Linked DNA regions of Homo sapiens. The protein of the gene in region 3 interacts with the protein of the main gene of each other region in a pairwise test. Each region holds a gene or a part of one and is shown on either strand. Other genes may lie near its edges.

Region 1 (3,754 bases), on a different chromosome or scaffold from region 3:
CTAGTAATTTTTTCCATCTGTCCTTTCCATGCTGAGCCTCAAGTGAAGGAGGAGGCCCTATCCTCAGCTAGATGAGGCTCTGGGTGCTCGGACCTGGCTGGTGACCAACTCCAGGAGTCATGGCCCTTGGATAGCTCACATCCTTGCTCCCAGCCAGCCCTGCCCAAGAGGCCACCACACAGCCCTGGCACAGACTCCCCAGGATCACCTGGAATCAGGAACCAGGGACAGGGCTTTGTACAGGGGCTCAGTTCAGGGAAGAGTTGAGCTTCTCTCTGAGGGGTCCCTAGGGGGACCCCTCAGGCCAGGCCCTGATCCAGTTCTCCAGGGTCTTTCTCAGGGTCAGGTCCATGGGGAGACCATGGGGTGCTTGTCTGACACTGACCTCGCCCTGCTGAGTCCCCCCATCAGACTGTCCTTCCTCTGCAGCGAGTGTCTGCAGGGTCTGGATCCAGGAAAGGAATTCTGATCTGTGGAAGTTTGTCTCCCCCGTGTGTGTCCTGCACTAAATGTCCAAACCCTGATACAGGATGTAATGCAGAGAGGGCCACAGGCACAACCCAGGCCTGACAATCCCGTATGTGGGAAGTAGAACTGACCCCCAACACCCAGAGGTCATGTGGAAATACTCACGGTATACATGGAACTGTCCGGTTGCTTCTTCATTCACAAGATCTGACTTTATGACTTGTAGGGTATAGAATCCTGTGTCATTCTGGGTGACGTTCTGGATCAGCAGGGATGCATTGGGGTATATTGTCTCTCGACCACTGTATGCGGGCCCTGGGGTAGCTTGTTGAGTTCCTATTACATATCCTACAATTAGACTGTTGCCATCCACTCTTTCGCCTTTGTACCAGCTGTAACCAATACGATTCTGGGGCAGGTTGTGGGCGAGTAGAAGAACCTCCTTCCCCTCTGCGACATTGAACGGCGTGGATTCAATAGTGAGCTTGGCAGTGGTGGGTGGGTTCCAGAAGGTTAGAAGTGAGGCTAGGAGAGAGGAGAGAGCATCGGTCAATATTGGGACCTATGCATTAGGGTGGAAAAACAGGGCCCTGGGTCCTGAGCAGGTCTCTTCACCCCTCCACGTTGGAGCGTGTGTGTGTGTGTGTGTGTGTGTGTGTGTGTGTGTGTGTCCTACTGAGTCAAAGTCAGCAGTGTGACACCCCCATTCCTTCAGCACCTTTGACCTTGGCATTTCCCTGTGTGGAATGCTCTTCCCCAGGGGTCTGCATGGCTCCCTCCCCACTGGCCTCAGGTCCTGCTCACATCAGGGCATTCTTGGGAGATCCCTTCCCTGACACCCCCTCTACAGACCCTGGGTCTTTTCTTTCTGACCTTTCCCTGCTCTGTTCCTTCCAGGGCTCTTGTCAACACCTGACCTCACATTCTATATCTCTTTGTGTGTGTGTTTTCCTCTTCATGACAGCATAAGCTCTGTGATGACTGAGACTTGTCTGATGCTTGTTGTATGCCATTGACTAAAATTGATTGCAAATGCTTGTGGATGAGTTAATGAGTGTATCTGGTGGTTATTTTTCAACTTCTGATTGGTGAGTAAGGGCAGCATTTAGTTTCCTTGTTATATTTTTATTTGGAGTGTCATCCTAATGCAGTTCTGATTTCTATCATTTTTCTTTTTTTTCAAATGGTAATGACAAATGATGATTAACTTGGAAAACATGATCAATTGATTTTCCTCCCTTTTTATCAATCCCAGTTTAGTGTGACTTTCCTGTTGTGACCCCTGTCCCTCTCTGGTGTTCTGTTTCCTCAGGCTTCAACAAAAGCCCTCTGTCTCCTCTCAGAGCCTTGTCCTCCCCAGGAGACCCTAGCCAGTCTCTGTGCTCCCTCCTCCCATCCACTCCGAGGGAGTCCTCCCCTCACCTGTGAGCAGGACCTCCTTCCAGGGGACATGCAATCTGCAGGGAGGGGCTGAGGGGGGTCCCATGGTCTCTGCTGTCTTCTCTGTCCACCTCTTTGTAGAGGAGCTTGAGCTCCAGGAATGCTCTGGTCAGGGCTGCTGTGACTGTTGGCCCTGCTGTCCTTCCTCCTTCTGTGCTGAGCCTCCTCTCAGGGATAGAAGCATTTCCCAGGGTCACGTGGGTCATGGGTGCGGTCTCTGTTCAGGAATCCTCTATCCCCTCCCCTCTCATTTCTGTCTCTTTTGTCCCTCCTCCTCTTCCCTTTCTGTTTATATTCAGTTCCCCAGAAGATGCTCTGAGAAGCAAGCTTGTTTGGACCCCTGTTCCATAACAGGACGACCCGCCCTCCCCAGCACGGACCTCTGCTGTGTCTGGGCCTTGGGTCTGTCAGCACCACACAGAGAGTCCCTGGGGTCCTCAAACCTGGTGTTATTTTCTCTGTGACAGAGAAACCCCTCTATGTGTGCAGGATGTTCCTAGTGTTCTCACACGTCTGGGAAGGTTGGATTTACCTCCAGCAAGGAGGTCACAGAGATGTTTGGGGTCCTAGGAGTGGACACATCCAGGGCTAAAGCCCGGGTCTAAGATTCTGAATTGTTCTTTCTGCAGTGTTATGTGACTCTAATTTCCTGGGAGTAACTGAGAATGAAGCTGCATGGTGCTGTAGTATTATGTCATCCAGACCCCAGACATTTCTAGACCAACTTTATGATTTTCTCTACAGCTTTACCACCTTTATTATTATTTACTTCATACTTTTTTTGTAATTAAATTTAGTTTACAAAACATCCTTGTCTTAGCAGGGCTTGGTGGCTCACACCTGTGATCTCAGCTACTCAAGAGGTTGAGGTGAGAGGATGGCTTGAGGCCAGGAACTGAAGACAAAATATTTTTGTCTTATGCAATATTGTCCATGAAATCAGAGATTTGATGTGTGCTTAATTTTTTTTCCTGTCATGCGTTAAAATAAACACAGTTAAACTTAAAAGTTTATTTATGTTTCACCTAAAATCAGTTTTGGGAAATGCTTATATAGTGGCATAAGCATGGAATTTATATCCAGATATAGACCTGGGCTCAGCTAATGGTTCTGTCACTTAACTATGTTGACTTGGACAAGTCACTTGGCTTCTATGATCCTTGATTCCCTGATTTGTAAAAGGAGGATGGTAAAATCCTCCTTGCAGAGTTGTTGGGAATATGTGGGAGCCCAGTGTCCAGGCGGGTGTTGAGTACGTGATGGTTATCATTGTGTTTATTGCTGTGGAATTCTGGTTATTTTCCAAAGAGAGTGTCTATGCTGGAATATTGGGCTTGTGGCTTTCTGCTAACATGCATGTGTGAAGAAGTTACTTTTGCTTGTTAGGACTTGTGCATCTGTCATTATTTTTGTTTTCCAGTTCTACTACCTATTTTCTCTGTGATGTTGGTCAAGTTGTCTAACTTTTCTGTGCCTCATTTACCTAATTTGTGAAATGTGGGTAACAGTACACTAGTGTGGGTGTGTTATTTCCCAGCTCCGACCACTAGAGGGCATAGAAGCACCGGCACCTACTAGCAATGGGCATATGGGTGCCCATGGTCTGTAAACATCATTTTCCCATGAAAGGAACCAGGGGTCCCTGGAGAAATAGCTGATCCAGGGCTGGGCAAGAAAGCACAAGAGGAGCCTTGTGGGGCCAGAAGTAAACATTCTGTGGGGCCAGAAGTAAGGAACTGCTTGAAAAATGATGGGGTTGTGTCAAAAGTCACAGAAACCAACTAGAAGGAACTCCCAATGGCCAAATTTGGGACAATATCAGCGACATAATAAACAATGCCAGCCA
Region 2 (3,754 bases), on a different chromosome or scaffold from region 3:
TTAGGTTTATGCCTTTCCAGTCAAGCTGCTGTTATGGAAAACAAATACCCAAGCAATATGAACTTACGGATATGGAGGAAGGGAGACATATTTGGGACCAAGGCTCATTAGTAGGTTAGGGTCTGCTGTACCTACCCGTCTGCCAACATCTATCTGCCAATATTCCCAGACTTTCCTGTTTCTAAATGCTGATTTAGATAAATGCTTTTCTAACCAAAATGAAGCAGTATGGTATTTAAGTCAACCATGGAAATAAGCATTAACATATGTGCCCCCACCTGAAAGACATCAGGTTAGGTTCGATTTGAATCAGGCAGGAGGCCAGATGCAATCAAGTCCCTGAAGTCTGGAACTCCACCAGAAGAAGAGATCAGGCTCCCCTGCCCCAGGATCCTCCAGACTGCAGAAGATCTAGGGAGGTCAGAATAGAGCAGGGCTCCCACATCTTTGATAAAATGTGATTTTGTAAACTAGAAGAAAGGGGGAAATGGCAAAAGCAGGCCTTTCTCTAAAAGGTCTAATAAACGGGATGATGCCGGGGTACTTTCCAGGCCTCCCTCATGCCATCTCTATCTCTACGATTACATCACAAGCCCCAGAACACCCTGGCTCTACACGCAAGGCAGGCCACACACTGGACTGCTTGCATAGACCTAGAGCAGTTCAGTGGCTCAGTGAGGACTTGCTATCCCAACTGGACCAAGTTGGAAGCCCTACATGGTATGTGAGATCACAGAATTGGTATTTGATACCCCTGGAAATGGTTGCATCGTCATTTCACCAATACAGCTACACTTTCCTCTAAGGCCTGTGGGTTTGACATTGATCCTTATATGTTTATTTGTTCATGGGCTTGTTAGAAAGCTTTTAGATTGAGATTTAGGCAAAAAAGAAAGTGAACTTGGTTTTTAGCCGTAAATTTCTCTAGACCATTCTTAGGTCAAACTAACCAGCTTCCTTCTGCAGAAATTGTTCAGTGCTACATGGGCATGTGAGAACAAATTTTGCGTGCTCAGTGCTAAGACACTTTCTCCCACCAACTCTACCTTTCTCATAACAAGATCTTAAAAGATGATTTCATTCCCTCAGTCCTTAGGTGCTGTCCTGTCCTCAGGTGCTGATGTCTAATCACCACACTGTTTGGTTCAGTCACCTGCTATCATCCCTCCAGTTTAGGGGTTCTGTCTCTTTAATCAGCAGGCAAAAAATTCAGACTCAGGCTTTTGACCCTGCAAAATGGAGAAGCATGTACTGCTTTTGAATTTTTAAAAAAAAAAAAAAACAGTTAGAAATTTGACACTAAGACATCTAAGCAACTGGGTGGAGATCTGAAGTAGCAAGTGAAAATGATACCATTAATGATATTGATGATGGATGTAAAGGCAATTGCAAACAATTGGTTTTTTGTTCTTAACTCCAGTCAAACACTTACCAAAACAACTAAACTGGTTGGACTTCAACAATCTAAATGAAATCTTGAAGCATGAATGTATTTCCCATGCAGTATGGAAAGGAAGAGAGAGAGAAAGTAGTTAAAAAACAATCTCCATTCCTACCACACACCTTTGGCTTGCATTGTTCACCACCTTTTAAAGTAATGCCTGATGTGTTATATGCTGGTCCTCCAGAAATTCTAAACTTTCCCCAGAAGTGACCTTTGTTCTCCCAGTGCCTCACAACACTCTTAAATACCAAAGAGCTTCAGGGGGCAAGGACAAGAATTTTCTAAAGGAAACCCTTCTCCACTTGCACTGGACAGGCTGTCAAGACCCAGCAAGACACTTTGTCATGTTATCTCACTCCACATTCGCTTTCTCTCCTTGTAGCTACCTCATCCCTGAACTCCCAGCTCCAGCAGCTCCAGCTCCAGCTCCAGCAGCAGCAGCAGCAGCAGCAGCAGCAGCCTCCCCCGTCAACCAACCAGCACCCGCAACCAGCCCCACAGGCGCCCTCGCAGTCCCAGCAGCAGCCGCTGCAGCCCACCCCACCCCAGCAGCCACCACCCGCCTCTCAGCAGCCGCCAGCTCCTACATCTCAGCTGCAACAGGCGCCTCAGCCCCAGCAGCACCAACCCCACTCCCACTCCCAGAACCAGAACCAACCATCTCCAACCCAGCAGAGCTCCAGCCCCCCGCAGAAACCTAGTCAGTCTCCAGGACATGGCCTGCCTTCACCGCTCACGCCACCCAATCCTCTACAGGTATGCTCCCCGTGCTTCCCGTCTGCCCCTAGGAGCACCAAGGACCTTTCCATGGGGTGGTGCCATCCCCAAAGGCAGAGGGACCACACAAAACTTAGCATCCAGTTCTGCAGCATCTAATTCAAATTGATCTCTTAGACATAGGGAAGAAGAAGCAACTAGAAGGCAACTGGGGATGCATGTAAACGAAACAAATAGAAGCCCATTTCTGTTGCCCTCCAAAGGATAAATGTTATCTGTTTCCTTCTGTGAGAGGCCAGCACTATAAGTGCATTTGGAGCCTGTAATAATTCCATTTTATGATACTTTTTGAAGGCAGCAAAGATAGCATCCAATTAAAATTATTACTAGCACAGTTTTGTAGCCCCATGGAGAACTGCATCTACTGTCCATGAGGCATGGTGGTTATTTCTCTATATTATGAATACAACAGTGTCTCACCTTAAGTACTTTGTGCTCTTTTGTTTCTATTTTTCTAAAGACTCTCTGGGGTTAGGAGGGCAAAGAAATTTAGCCCCAGTCTTATGTCCCAGATTCCAACCATTACTCCACAGACTAACAAGTACTCTAAATTCATGCCAAGAGCCTCAACCAATATGCATCTTTATAAAGGAATAAAACTTCTATAGGTTTACTTTATTACTGTGAGGCTGAGAGCTTCATAAATAGATATTTCAGGCTAACCATGAGAGCTCATCTATAACCTACCTATTGAGAAGGAATGGATAGGTGCATTCATATATATATATATATATATATGACTTTAAACTTCAGAAAACCATTTTTAACTTAGGTGTCTTTAAAATAAATTAGCTTCAAAACATAATGACTGTGATGTCATCATATCAGATCCAGAAATTAATAACTCAGCCAAGCCATCCATTCTTTGACTTGCACAATGACATTTTTCCCTGTGAGATTTCAGACAATCTCGTGTATTTGTAGTACTGTGACAAAGTTAAACAGAGTGAGCAGCCTGTGGACCTGTTTCAAGTGCCATCTCATCCCCTTGCCATAGTGGTGGGTATAAACCTCAGTCAGTCCGGCTCTCCCCAGCCTGAGAATGACAGTAGCGATGGTATCCTTGGCTCCTAAATAGAAAAGTATACAAAATAAAGACAGGTTGGTACACGGACAGAAAGGCAGGTGGATTAGAGACTTGGTATTTTAGAACTTAGTTTGTTGTCCCATAGCTTTGTCTCTTCCAATTTGGATTCTCAGTGGTGTGGCCCAAAGCATTCCTAGAAATGAACACATTTGGGAGAGATGAGTCATTGTGTTTTTCTGGGCTCTTGGGCCAGGGCTACTTTCAATTTGAACATTTTCATGAGTGGAGTTTCAAGATGTATTTATACAATTCTTACGATGGTGAGACAACGTAACACCTTTGACCTAGGACTAAAATGAACATGGTCCAAAAACGTCTTCATTGTCCACTTGACACCTACTGAAAGAGCAGGTGTCATCAAATTTACAGAAGGCATGATTACAGCAACCTTAATGTTGGCAGCATTTGGGATTCAACTTTATTATTCCAAAAAATTAATTTAATGC
Region 3 (2,840 bases):
GAAGCCCCCCCAGAATCCTGTGGACACCTATGACGTCCAGGTCACAGCCCCTGGGGGTGAGCAGGCCTGAGGCCTCTGGAGGGGACTTGTTCAGGGTGGGGATTGCAGGGGGGAGGCTGGACTCTGGCCGAGGATGGAGGGGGCAGGCCTTGATGCCCCTCTCTACACTCCCAGCCCCGCCTCTGCAGGCGGAGACCCCAGGCAGCGCGGTGGACTACCCCCTGCATGACCTTGTCCTCCACACCAACTACACCGCCACAGTGCGTGGCCTGCGGGGCCCCAACCTCACTTCCCCAGCCAGCATCACCTTCACCACAGGTAGGGTCTGTGGGGTGTGTGGGACAGGGAGAGGAGGTAGAGGGAGCCAGGTTGGGCCTCATCCCCATCTCCTCTTCCTGCTTTCCCTCCTAGGGCTAGAGGCCCCTCGGGACTTGGAGGCCAAGGAAGTGACCCCCCGCACCGCCCTGCTCACTTGGACTGAGCCCCCAGTCCGGCCCGCAGGCTACCTGCTCAGCTTCCACACCCCTGGTGGACAGAACCAGGTGCCCCGGCCCCACTGACCCAACTCCCCTCCCTGGGTGATTCCAGGAGGTGCTGCCTCTGGCCCTCCCGGAGGGTCTCCACCTCCCTCTCCCCTGACCCCCCCTTGTCTGTCCCACAGGAGATCCTGCTCCCAGGAGGGATCACATCTCACCAGCTCCTTGGCCTCTTTCCCTCCACCTCCTACAATGCACGGCTCCAGGCCATGTGGGGCCAGAGCCTCCTGCCGCCCGTGTCCACCTCTTTCACCACGGGTACCTGGACGCACGGGCCCGGGGCCGGGGGCTGGGTGGGCAGCCAGGGCCTAAGGCTTGGAAAAGGACTGGCCCCTGCTCTCCTCTCCCAGGTGGGCTGCGGATCCCCTTCCCCAGGGACTGCGGGGAGGAGATGCAGAACGGAGCCGGTGCCTCCAGGACCAGCACCATCTTCCTCAACGGCAACCGCGAGCGGCCCCTGAACGTGTTTTGCGACATGGAGACTGATGGGGGCGGCTGGCTGGTGGGTGGCATTGGGAAGCCCAGGGGTCTGTGCAGGGCAGGGTCTGTTGCCCCGGGAGCCAGAGGCTGATGGTGCCCCCACTTGCTTCCCAGGTGTTCCAGCGCCGCATGGATGGACAGACAGACTTCTGGAGGGACTGGGAGGACTATGCCCATGGTTTTGGGAACATCTCTGGAGAGTTCTGGCTGGGTCAGTGCCTCACAGGGACTGGGGAACTACGGATGGGGATGGGGGCCCTGTGGACACCAGGACCCTGATGAGGGCACGTATCCCACCCCCAGGCAATGAGGCCCTGCACAGCCTGACACAGGCAGGTGACTACTCCATGCGCGTGGACCTGCGGGCTGGGGACGAGGCTGTGTTCGCCCAGTACGACTCCTTCCACGTAGACTCGGCTGCGGAGTACTACCGCCTCCACTTGGAGGGCTACCACGGCACCGCAGGTAAGCAGAGGCTGTGAGGCTGGGAGGGTGAGGCTGGGAGGGGAGGCCCTCATGGCTCCTTCCTCCACCCTGCCCAGGGGACTCCATGAGCTACCACAGCGGCAGTGTCTTCTCTGCCCGTGATCGGGACCCCAACAGCTTGCTCATCTCCTGCGCTGTCTCCTACCGAGGGGCCTGGTGGTACAGGAACTGCCACTACGCCAACCTCAACGGGCTCTACGGGAGCACAGTGGACCATCAGGTGAGGGGTGGGGAGGCGGCTCAGAGCTGGGGTGGCTGGGGCTCGGCCTGCCTAGGTTTCAGCCCCACAGTGTAACAGGCAAGGGACTGAGTGGCTGGGTGAAATGGAACAATCATGCCAGCCTCGCAGAGGGAGCTGGAGTTGATTTATTGGCTGGAAAGGGCCAGCTCAGAATTAAGCCTCAATCCTCTGCAGCGGAGGGTCAGGAAGGGAGCTCTGCGGGGAGGTTGGTTGAGTGCTGGGAGCTACCTCCTTAAGGGGAACGGGAAGAGCAGATGGGACATCCGGCTTTGACTCTCTCTTGACAACCCCTTTCCCAGGGAGTGAGCTGGTACCACTGGAAGGGCTTCGAGTTCTCGGTGCCCTTCACGGAAATGAAGCTGAGACCAAGAAACTTTCGCTCCCCAGCGGGGGGAGGCTGAGCTGCTGCCCACCTCTCTCGCACCCCAGTATGACTGCCGAGCACTGAGGGGTCGCCCCGAGAGAAGAGCCAGGGTCCTTCACCACCCAGCCGCTGGAGGAAGCCTTCTCTGCCAGCGATCTCGCAGCACTGTGTTTACAGGGGGGAGGGGAGGGGTTCGTACGGGAGCAATAAAGGAGAAACTGAGGTACCCGGCTGGCATCGGTCCTGCCCCATCACTGGCTCTGGCCCGGGCTGTGGGCCCCCATCCCCCGGGGCTGCAGCCGCACTTGGAAAGGCTGCATCTTGAGGATGACACTGCAGTGGGGCAGGGGCTGCAGGGAGGGCAGGGCGTCCCCGGAGGGCAGCAGCGTGAAGGCCTGCAGCAGTCGGGTCAGCACCACGAAGAGCTCCAGGCGCGCCAGCGGCTCGCCCAGGCACACGCGGGCACCGCAGCCGAAGGCCAGAGCTCTGGAGTTCTTGCCTGGCTCCAGGAAGCGATCTGCGGGCGGGTGGACAGGTGGGTGGGGAGGCGTTCAGCGGCAGCGGGGACCAGCCTCCACCACATTTTCACGGCAGGCCCCCGGCCCCCCACATACCAGGCCAGAACTCATGTGGCCTCTCCCAGACCGTCTCATCCAGGTGGGCGCCTTGGAGGTTCGGAATGATGACTGTGCCCTCAGGGATGTCGTAGCCGGAGATGCTGAAGGGGGCTGGA

The links.
Region 1: the proteins of TNXB (region 3) and CEACAM6 interact in binary tests that used the Homo sapiens proteins (3 or more experiments, as listed by UniProt).
Region 2: the proteins of TNXB (region 3) and POU6F2 interact in binary tests that used the Homo sapiens proteins (3 or more experiments, as listed by UniProt).

Annotation. Positions count from the first base shown.
Region 1 is NC_000019.10:41,753,839-41,757,592, reverse strand, and holds the start of CEACAM6 (cell adhesion molecule CEACAM6 preproprotein), read right to left. Parts: upstream 2,064-3,754; 5' UTR 1,955-2,063; coding exon 1,891-1,954; intron 994-1,890; coding exon 634-993; exon of another isoform or gene 1-633. UniProt on the Homo sapiens protein: Cell surface glycoprotein that plays a role in cell adhesion and tumor progression. Intercellular adhesion occurs in a calcium- and fibronectin-independent manner.
Region 2 is NC_000007.14:39,337,816-39,341,569, forward strand, and holds part of POU6F2 (POU domain, class 6, transcription factor 2), read left to right. Parts: exon of another isoform or gene 1-1,305; intron 1,306-1,826; coding exon 1,827-2,200; intron 2,201-3,754. UniProt on the Homo sapiens protein: Probable transcription factor likely to be involved in early steps in the differentiation of amacrine and ganglion cells. Recognizes and binds to the DNA sequence 5'-ATGCAAAT-3'. Isoform 1 does not bind DNA.
Region 3 is NC_000006.12:32,040,653-32,043,492, reverse strand, and holds the end of TNXB (tenascin-X isoform 3 precursor), read left to right. Parts: coding exon 1-56; intron 57-174; coding exon 175-318; intron 319-411; coding exon 412-542; intron 543-661; coding exon 662-794; intron 795-886; coding exon 887-1,038; intron 1,039-1,130; coding exon 1,131-1,227; intron 1,228-1,319; coding exon 1,320-1,481; intron 1,482-1,558; coding exon 1,559-1,722; intron 1,723-1,848; exon of another isoform or gene 1,849-2,042; coding exon 2,043-2,144; 3' UTR 2,145-2,340; downstream 2,341-2,840. Other genes in the region: CYP21A2 (steroid 21-hydroxylase), read right to left, coding at 2,359-2,624, 2,722-2,825. UniProt on the Homo sapiens protein: Appears to mediate interactions between cells and the extracellular matrix. Substrate-adhesion molecule that appears to inhibit cell migration. Accelerates collagen fibril formation. May play a role in supporting the growth of epithelial tumors.